2 separate regions of the Homo sapiens genome follow, and region 1 is linked to region 2. The links come from fine-mapping of genetic effects on gene expression. A gene starts in region 2. The other region holds a variant in brackets. All regions are shown on one strand. Distances are from middle to middle. Region 1 has its middle 34 kb from the start of LINC03040. Region 2 holds the start of DNPH1 (2'-deoxynucleoside 5'-phosphate N-hydrolase 1).

Region 1 (5,368 bases), 740 kb after region 2:
ATATATAAAGTATATATTATATATAATATATTATATAATATATATTATATATCAAGTATATATATATAATATATAACATATATATTATAAACTTATATATATGTATTATATGTATATAAGCTCTTCCCACTTTGGAAATCATTGACTTCAACTACAAGGAAGGGCATGTCGTCCACCGGTTAAGTTTGTGGGCCCTGGAGCCAGGCTGCCTGAGTTCAAATCTTGGCTCTGCCACATACTAGCTGAGGGACTTCGGGGAAGCAATGTAACCTCTTCCGGGTTGGTCTTTCATTTGTAAAATGGGATGATGAGTATAATAGCAATTAAGCAGAATAGCCAGGGGCTCCTTGAAAGGACAAAGACAGCATGGCCACTCCCATACCATCCCTAGGATGACCACTGGGTGCAAGCCCATTGCCCCTTAGAAGATTCCTCATCCCCAACTTCCAGGCAAGGCAGACTCACCAACCAATCCATAAAGCACCTACTGTGTGCTTAGCACCAAGCAGGTAGGTTTGAAGGATGATGCTCCCCTGACCCCAGACATACACAATATGCTGACTGCTTAATGGGTTCACAGAGTCTCGTGAGAACTTCTCTCCATTGTGCAGGATGGGGAAACTGAGGGCCAAAGAGAGGACACTAGGTCTTTAGAACACAAGCAGGACTTTCTTCCCAGGGCCGGAAAGAACTTTGAAAAGGAAATGTCAAAAGCACAATGGCAATTCTGAGCCAAGCAGGGAGGAAGGAGAGAGGGGAGCTGAGAGGGAATGATAGTGCATGGAGGAGCAGGCTGTGGATGTGGGAGTGTATAAGCTGCAGCCTGGTGCTCTGCGAGGAGCTGCCAGTGAGCCACCAGCCTTTGCAGAGCAGAGAACTCAGGTGGTGGGAGAGCTGAGCCCAACTCTTGCAGATCACTTGGTTGAGGGGAGGACTCACTGGCTATCCTGGCTCCCTGGCCAAGCCCCATCCCCACGTCCACCCACTCCCACCTACCTTGCCCAATCTGCACTGGGCCCTGGAGGATGTTGCCAAACACTAGGTCATTGACCTTGGGTGTGGGGTGGGCACAGCAGGGAAGGTGGGGGGTGGGAGAGGGGCCAGCAATCCCTGTTTGACTGGAGCTGTTCCAGGGCTGCTTGGGCTGACCCGACTGCTCCCATGTCATTGCTGAGCTGTCGGGGCTGTAGAGTCACTTGCCTTACAAATCTGGAGGCAGCAGGCTGTGTGGACTCTGGCCTGGTGCCCCCTCTCTGTGGCAGTACCTGGTGTGTGTGTGTGGGGCCTTCCAGGTGCCTGACCCCTGCCCACCCCAACTTGCTGCACCCTCTCCCGGGAACATTCTCAGTGGAAGCTCATAATCTCCTTTTAAAAATCCTGGTTCACCCCAGACTGACTTGTAGAGGCCACTCCAACCTCCCACCTCGCCCACATTAGGATTCCAACCAGATAATTTCAAATGACACCCCACCCCCCAACCTCCTGCTGCTGACAGCTTCCTCCTTCTTCCTAGCTAGCTCTTCCTCCATTCATTGTCCCCTCCTAACTCTCCCCCATCTCCCTCCCTCTTAGCCAGCTCACAGGCAGGACAGGGCAGAGATTCAGGAGGGCAAAGTCTTCACCCCAGGAATGAGGTGGTTTGAGTTCCCAGTTTTGTCCCTTATTGCTGTGAGACCTTGGACAAGTTATTCAATGTGTGTCTTAGTTTCTTCATCTATGAAGTGGGATTAATAATAGTACCAATCTCTTGGAGTCATCAGAAAGACTAGAGGGAGTGGTCATTATTATTAATTCCTTACCAACCTCCCTTCCCCCACACCCCTCCTCATCCAGCCTTCACCCTCTCTACTCCCCCAACCCCCAATATACACACAGGAATCGGGAATTACATAGAGGGTGAGACGTATACCAATGGCACTTCATCAGAACTACTGCCTTTCTGAGACCTGAGGGCAGTAGTGTGTTGGAGCCAATCTGCTGCAGCTTGGACAGTTGTAAACTTTTCTTCCCAACTGCTTATCCATTGACTTCAGGTTGGTAGTCTGAAGTCAGCCATGGTGGGAGTATTTACACCACAGAAATTGGCAAATGCTACAAAAGAGGACTTTTTCACCCAGAGAGCTGGTCGTGAAACAATAACCAGCCACTGCCTGGGGGTCAGGGTACCCTGAACATTGACCACAGCAGCAAGCACCTGGGAAAGGGCTAGAAAGGCCCTGGATGGGGGGTGTGGGTAGAGCTACTCAGCCCCATCTCCTTTTTCCTCCCCTCCAGCCCCCTTCAGCCCTGTGCCTGGACCACTAAGGTTGCTTCCTGACTGAGGTCCCTGTACCCACTCAGCCCCCTCCACTCTCCTCTCTACTATCCTGAAATAAAAACCAACCTTAGGCCCTCCTCTTAGGGTGAGGGTGAGCCCCCCAGGCCATGTAGGCTCTGGCCCCTTTCCTCCTGCTCTTCCTCTGAGTGCCTCCACCCTTATTCACAGGCTCACTCTTGTCTCAGAGCCTCTGCCTAGACTGCTCTTCCCAGCCTCCAAACCCACTTTCCAGGGCTGATCTGCATTCACACTTCAATGTTCTTCTCTGATCACCCACCCACCCCACCTCAAGAACAATACTTATCACAGTTTTTATCATTTTTGTGTGTGCAGTTATTTCAAGTTTTTCTCACCCACAGAGATGGAAAGCTTCAGGAAGGGAACAGGTTCTGGCTTGTTCAGCACTAATCTCCCACACAGGGCCTAAAATATAGTAGGTGCCTGATAAATATTTACCAAATGGATGAATGAACTATCCCGTTGGAACACTGATGTTAAGCAGTAAGGGAATGCTTTTAAACCAGGAGGGAGGCTGTGCTTACAGTGGAGACCTGAGCACAGTGCGGAAGTGCAAGTCCCTGTCCCATCTTTACTTACTGTGTGATGTGGGAATCTCCATTTCCTCTCCTGTAGGATGGGATCATAATAATGACAATCACACACTTGGCAAAACCCTGAGGTTGCTACGCCATCAAATGCAACAACGGACGTGAGACTCTTCTACGAACTGCCCAGCCAAGTCTGCAGAGGGCTGACAATGGGCTTGGATTCAGATCCCAGCACTGCTGCTTAGTAGCTGGGTCAGCTTGGAGAAGTTACTCAACCTCTTTGAGTGTCAGTCTCCTCAAAGATGCAGTGCAATCTCTACCTCATAGGGAAGTAGGAGAGAGACAGTGTGTCTCAAGCACTCAACACCAAGTCTAGCACGGAGTAAGCCTGAAGCTCAAGTGGGCGTCCACTGTGACTATTACCTTTATCGCCAAACATATTTTATACAGGAGCTGTGTAGCATTGCTTATTGA[GA/G]AACCAAAGAATGATGTTATAGTATATGTTTTTATAATACGCCTAGGACAGGAGGGTGGGGCAGACTTTGGGGAGAGACCTCCTTGAGCATCTCTTCATGCTAGGCACTGGGCTGTACACACATGGGGAGCTGCCAGCCATCTCCGCCTGCCCTAAGGTGGTTCATTCTACAGGCTCATTCACCTCTGGAAAGTAAAACCAGCCACAGTGGAAGGAGCATCTGAGGCAGATCCTGGCCACAGGCAGAACCCTGTGGGAATCAGGCCATAGGACATTTATGCAATATGGTTGAACAGGAACAGGGTAGTGGCCTCTTAGAGCTCAGCTTCAGATCACAGGGAAATGGGGTTTCCCATAGGGCCAGGGTAGGTTCAGGATGGAAGCCAAAACCACTCGGGTAGGCTGGGCTGAGCACTTGATTGGGGGCTCAGGAGAGAGAGGTACCACAATCTGAGCACCTCCTATTAATACTTGGTAGGCTCTGGCCTGGGCACTTTAAAGAGCATCAAAGCAATCCTACCAGGTAGGTGCTACTAGCCCATTTTCCAAAGGAAGAAACTAAGGCTCAGAGAAGTGAGGCCAAAATATGCTGAACCAGAATTCTACTCCTTGAGCAGGCAGCTTTCCACTGCCCCAGCCTGCCTCCCCCGGGGAAGGAACCTAGGTGCTGACGGGACCTGTCCTGGGCTGTCTCCAAGGAGAGAAAGCAAGCAACAGGGCCCAGGACCCTGGACTCTCTCCCCCAAGTCTCCTCCACTTCCAAGTAGAAGTGGAGACCTCTGTATGCCTCTAGAAGAATAAATTATTAAGAATGTTATTAGCTATAATTTAATGAGCGATTATTATGTGCCAGTGAGCTTTCATTAACTCATTTAATGCTCACAACAGCCCGGTGGCTGGGTCCCTGCCCACCTTTATATATGGATGAGAAACCAAAGTCCAGAAAAGCTAGCATTGATTCCTCTGGCACCCCTTCTACTTTTTTGGAAAATAAAAATGCGTTGTTGCAATACTTTGGAGCATCAACCCAGAATCACATAACAAGAACAGAGGAATTAGTCAGTTGCAAAGTCCTCCCTCGTGTCTACCCCAAGTCCCTCAGGCTGCAGTGAGAGCTTGACATTCCCCAGCTTCTCTGGGCCAGCCAGCAGCCACCCCCTACCATGTGGCCTTGGTCCCTCCTCTGCTGGGAATCAGGAGGGGGGTGGTCCTCCTTTGTTCCCCAGGCTCGGGGGAGCATTCCTACCCCAGAGAGGCCAGCTGAGGTCACGGGTCTATGCCCCCTCCCCAGGCCAGCCTGACCAAGCTGGCAGCCCCGTCAATCAGGTGCAGCCTGCTCAGCAGCCAGCCTTTTATTTCCTATATTAAAAGGGCTTGTGATTCCTGATTGAATTAAAGGCGGGAAGGTCAGCTCTGAGACCAGCAGGGAGATTTCAATCACGGGAGACCGGAGGCAGCCAAGGTGGGCAGGGGGGCAAGGCAGGGAGCAGACAAGGCCAGGAGCAAGAGTAGGGACGGGCACCACCGCTTCTCTCCCAGGCCAGACCAGTCAAAGCATGGTACAAGGGTGGCTAGTCCACAGCACCCACCCCCACAACCCTTTTGAAAATGTCAGTTTGAATTAAAGAAATTTCATCCTCTGATACAGCAGACAACCTGAACTGCTGGACTAGGCAGACTTGCTTGCGTATCTGTTAGTTAAAATGCCCTCAGAAAAGTGAATTCCACAGTTTCCCTCATTTCCTACTGTCAGCAGGTTCTTTCTGACTTCTCTCTTAAACTCCATGTTGGATCTTAAGGAGACAAAGATGATGCTACTTGCTTTGAAGTTATAAAGGACAGTCAATCAGCTGCTTTTTCGGCACCTATGGCTCAGGCTCAGGGATCCTGCAAACTGCCAGTGCTTTCCTGCGACCTGGGTAGAGTGGGGAGAGGACTGCAATGAACACAGTCTTCCTGGCTGTGTGCTTGGGGGAAAGCTCCTCATTTGCCCAGGGACTCAGTTTCCCCATCTGTGCAATGGGCAGC
Region 2 (5,368 bases):
GCACTTTGGGAGGCCAAGGCGGTAGGATCACGAGGTCAGGAGTTTGAGACCAGTCTGGCCAACATGGTGGAACCCCATCTCCACTAAAAATTAAAAAATTAGCCAGGCGTGGTAGCAGGCGCCTGTAATCCCAGCTACTCGGGAGGCTGAGGCAGGAAAATTGCTTGAACCTGGGAGGAGGAGGTTGCAATGAGCGGAGATCACTCCACTGCACTCCACCCTGGGCGACAGAGCAAGACTCTGTCTTGGGGGAAAAAAAAAAGTACATATTCGAAGGCTTTATCCCAGATGATCAGAACCTGCATTTTTAACAGGCTCCCTCAGATGACACTAAAGACCTGGAGAGCCACCAGGCAGTCTGGATATACCATGAACTAATGAGCTGTAAGCTTCAGGGTCCTCCACTTGCACAGGCCCTTTCCAAACCATCAGCAACTTTGTATTGTGATTTTTGTCTTTTTAAAGAGGTCTCCCAGAATTGCATGAGGTCCCACAAATTGTGGGTCTGCTCTTGGGTAGGATAAGTGGAAACCACTTAAGGTTTTCTGAGCAGAAGCACAAGCATTCAAGATACAATTTTCAAACTGGAAGGATCTGCAAGATTCCAGACCAGCACATCAAATATGCTTTAGAGAAATCCAGCCAGACTCAGCGGCTCATGTCTGTAATCCCAACACTTTGGGAGGCTGAGGCAGGCAGATCACTTGGGCTCAGGAGTTCAAGACCAGCCTGGCCAACATGGCAAAATCCCGTCCCTATAAAAAATACAAAACTTAACCAGGTATGGCGGCACACACCTGTAGTCCCAGCTACTTGGGAGGCTGAGGTGGGAGGATTGCTCAAGCCCGGGAGGCAGAGGTTAGCAGTGAGCTGAGATTTTGCCACTGCACTCCAGCATGGGTAATAGAACAAGACTGTTTCCAAATAAATAACTAAATAAATAGAAAGAGAAAGAAAAACCCAGCAGCCAGGAGCAGAACACAATAATGGCCTGAAAGAGAATATGAGGCCAGCATGGGGGCTCACATCTATAGTCCCAGCACTTCGGGAGGCCTGAGGCGGGAGGATCACTTGAGGCTAGGAGGTCGGGACCAGACTGGGCAACATAGTGAGACTCCCAATCTCTACAGAAAAATTTTGAGCCAGGCATGGTGTCGTGCCCCTGCAGTCCTTGCTAATAGGAGGCTGAGGCTGGAGGATCATGAGTTTAGGAAGCCGAGGCTGCAGTGAGCTATGATCGCACCACTGCACTCCAGCCTGGGCGACAGAGAGGCCCTTGTATCAACAAAACAAAAATGTGAGAGAGGGTAATAGTGAGAACTGGGGTCAGCCAGGTCTAAAAGAGTGCTGATGTCTTCACAGAAAAAGGGGAGGCAGGCCCTGGGCGGTGGCTCCTGTCTGTAATCCCAGCACTTTGGGAGGCCGAGGCGGGCAGATCACCTGAGGTCAGGAGTTCGAAACCAGCCTGACCAATATGGTGAAACACCGTCTCTACTAAAAATACAAAAAGTAGCCGGGTGTGGTGACGCGTGCCTGTAGTCCCAGCTACTCGGGAGGCTGAGGCAAGAGAATCACTTGAACCCGGGAGGTCGAGGTTGCAGTGAGCCGAGATCACGCAACTGCACTCCAGCCTGGGCGACAGAGTGAGATTCCGTTTCAAAAACAAAACAAAACAAAACAAAAAAAGTTGGTGGGGAGGCAGGAGGATACCTTTCGTGTTGGGTGGTGGAAAAGATTCCAGCGGGTGAGGTGGGAACTGAGCCCAAGCAAAGCAGCCCAATCTACCTTCTTTCTGTTGCACCCTACAAACGCTCTGAAAGCAGCTGAAGACAGAGTTCTCCAAGAAGGAACCAAAGGTCAAGATAATGCTGAGTCTGCCTTACACCCGCAGGCTTGCTGGGACCCACGCAGCCCGAGCCCCGGCCCGTTTCCTTCTCGGGCTGGGGCGCTGGATGGAGCACCGGGGTAGGAGGGCGGGCTCCGGGCGCCGGGAGCGCAGCTGCCGGGGGTCGGGGGGGCGGACAGGCCGGGTCCCTGCCACCCCAGCCAGGTCCGCGCCCGCGTCCCCGCGTCCCGCGGCCCCAGGGCCTCACCGCGCGCGCCCAGCTCGGCGGCCGCCACGTGCTCGGTGAGCACTGTCCCGAATCGCCGCAGCCGAGACACGATCCGCTCGTACAGCGTCCTGTCCTCGCGTCCGCCGCGAATGCTCCCGCAGAAGTACAGGGCCGGGCGGCCAGGCTCCCCGCGCTCCCAGCTCTCGCTGCGCCCCGGCACCATGGCAGCAGCCATTCCCCAGCCGCCCGCGCTCTCCGGCGCCAGGGGGCGCCAGCCCGCGGCCACGTGACCCCGCCCGGCCCAGCGCAGAGCCCGGCTGCTGAGTCCACACCTGTGGAATGGGGACGACGAACTGGGAGGATCCAGCCGGGACCCTTTCGGGAACACACCCTTCCTGGACTTGACGTTCGGATGCCTAACACGCACCTTAACTTGACCTTGTCCAGGCAGAACTCGAGGGCTTCCCCACCTCACCCGCTTCTGCTCCCCTCCTCCCCGCCGTCTTCCCCAGCTGCATCCTCCCAGCTGCTCAGGCCCAAGACCCTCGGAGTCATCTGGATCGTTCCCTTTCTCTCAAACTCTGCGTCCCATCCATTGACAACTCGTGTGGATTCGTCCTTCCAAATCTGAAATCTCACGACCGCCTACAGGGCCACCACCCTGGTCTAAGCCTCCTCTGGGCTCTCCACAGCCTCCTAACAGGTGTCCACATGTCGTGAGCTGCTCAAGGTCAGACAGAACCAGGTCCACCCACCTTTGTGTCTGTCCACAAGATCAGGTTTTTACTGATGCTATTTCAATCACAAAAGCTAGGCGTCACACGGAGTTCCCAAGAAGTCAGTTCTCCTTAGGACCACCTGTTCACTCGGTAGTCAGAGCCGCGGGCATGCAAGCTGGAGCCACTCCACAAGTCAGACTGTATTGCAAACCATCCATAGTATTATATGTAAGGATATAAATGTTACAGGTTAAAATTTCACATCAAACACAAGAACATTTAACATCAAGAGAAAAGGGGTTAACGAACCAGTCCAAGGAGAGTGCTGTGGACAGAGTCCCGGCCTGATGGGGATAGTCATCAAGAGCTTGCAAGGAAGAGTCCTTGATTTGGGCAGAGCCTTCAGAGGCAGACACCAGGTGCTGGGCACGAGTGATAGCAAGACTCGGTCTGTTAAGGTGGCCGTGTCTAGCTGCTGAAGTCCTGATCATTTTATGGTCCTTGAGTCCTCTGATGAGGACTTATAGTAAAGGGTGATGCCCTTATCTGGTTGGGTGTTGTCTCCATTGGTTAGGCGAACATCTGGACCCTGTTGGCTTGATGCCTTTTGAAATGTAAGATGAAGTTTTTTAAAACTTTATTTATTTATTTATTTATTATTTTTGGTGACAAGGTCCCTGTCGCCCACACTGGAGTGCAGAGGCACGATCATTGCTCACTGCAGCCTCAAACTCGTGCCTCAAGTTTGAGGGTTCAAGGAATCCTCCCACCTCAGCTTCCTGAGTAGCTAGGACTACAGGCACGTGCCACCATGCTGAGCTAATAAAAAAAAAATTGGCTGGGCTCGGTGGCTCATGTCTGTAATCCCAGCACTTTGGGAGGCCGAGGTGGGCAGATCACGAGGTCAGGAGATCGAGACCATCCTGGCTAACGCGGTGAAACCCCGTCTCTACTAAAAATACAAAAAGTTAGCCAGGCGTGGTGGCACACTCCTGTAGTCCCAGCTACTCCAGAGGCTGAGGCTGGAGAATCGCTTGAACCCGGGAGGCAGAGGTTGCAGTGAGCCAAGATCACGCCACTGCACTCCAGCCTAGGCAACAGAGTGAAACTCCATCTCAAAAAAAAAAAAATTGTAGAGACGAGGTCTCACTATGTTTCCACGGCTGGTCTCAAAACTCCTAGACCCAAGCAATCCCCCTACCTCAGCCTCCCAAAGCGCTGGGATTACAGGCATAAGCGAATGTGCCCAGTGATGGAGTCTTTCTAAGATGGAATTACTTATGTCAAGGGTTCTCTATACACCTCCCCTGGCCCTTCCCTGCTACAGTTTGCTCTCCACTCAGCAGCTTGAGTGATCTAGGTCATGACCCTCCTCTGCTCAAAACCCTCCAGTGGTTCCCATCTCACTTGGGGTAAAAACTGAAAACCTCACAGTAGCTCACAAGGCTCCAGATGATCCTGTCACCCTCTTACTTCCCTAACTCCAGCTTCTATTACTTTCATTCACTTCTCTGCCACCTCACTGGCTTCCTGGCTGTTCCTTAAGCATGTCAGCCATGCCCTTGCCTCAGAGTCTTTGCATTTGCTGTTCCCTCTGCCCGGAACACTGTTCTCCCAGGTAGCTTCCTGGCTCACTCCTCATTTCCTTCAAGTCTTTGTTCACACTTCACCTTCCCTGATCACCCTATTCAATATGGCAGCCCTCCATCCCCCAGTACTCTCTATCACCCTTCCCTACCTTGCCTTTTCTCCTTCTCATACACCATATAACTTATTAATTTTGTTGCATGTTTTTCTATACCTAGTAGAAGGTCGTTCACTGCTGTATTCCTGCTTTCTTTCTTTTCTTTCTTTCCTTCTTTCTCTTTCTTTCTTCTTTCTTTCTTTTTCTTTCTTTCCTTCCTTCCTCCCTCCCGTCCTTCCTTTCCTTCCTTCCTTCCTCCTTCTTTCTTCTTTCTTTCTTTCTTTTTCTTTCTTTCTCCTTCTTTCTTCCTTCTTTCCCCTTCCTTCCTTCCTCTCTCTCTCTTCTTTCTTTCCCTTCCTCCCTCCCTTCCTTCCTCCCTTTCTTTCTTTCTCTTTTTTTCTCTTTCTTTCTTTTCTTTCTTAAGAGATGGTGTCTTGCTCTGTCACCCAGGCTGGAGTGCAGTGTCATGGTCACAGCTCACTGCAGCCTCAAACTCTTAGGATCAAGCAATCCTCCCTCATCATCCTCCTGAATAGCTGGGACTACAGGCGAGTGCCACCATGCCTGGCTAATTTTTTATAGAAATGGGGTCTCACTATGTTGCCCAGGCTTATCTTAAACTCCTGGGCTCAAGCAATCCTCCCACCTCAGCCTCCCAAAGTACTGGGATTACAGGTGTGAGCCACTGTGCCTAGCCTATCCCTGGTTTCTAGAACTATGCCTGGCACATAAGAAACATTTATTAAATATTTGTTGAATGAATGAGTGGTTTAAATGAGAGGATGTATTTCACAGCACTTCACAGTCTGCTCAGCCCTGTAGTAAGTAGGCTGATAGAGGCGGTATCTTCAGGGAGACAGGCAAGCACTCATTGTTCACCAATACTGATTTCATCCTCATTTTATTATGAC

Evidence for each region. PIP is the estimated chance that this variant, and not a neighbour inherited with it, causes the effect.
Region 1: its variant is fine-mapped to the expression of DNPH1 in vagina (GTEx, PIP 0.99).

Annotation. Positions count from the first base shown.
Region 1 is chr6:43,963,900-43,969,267 of GRCh38, forward strand. No RefSeq gene overlaps it. Among named protein-coding and RNA genes, the nearest start is that of LINC03040, 34 kb to the right of the region's middle. RefSeq lists an enhancer at 1,119-1,618. The variant GA/G (reference allele first, on the strand shown) is at 3,340.
Region 2 is chr6:43,227,168-43,232,535 of GRCh38, forward strand. It overlaps DNPH1 (2'-deoxynucleoside 5'-phosphate N-hydrolase 1), which reads right to left and starts at 2,314. Exons shown (of 4, transcript NM_006443.3): 1 at 2,094-2,314. The coding sequence starts at 2,289. RefSeq lists silencers at 1,923-2,112, 2,173-2,612 and an enhancer at 2,096-2,595.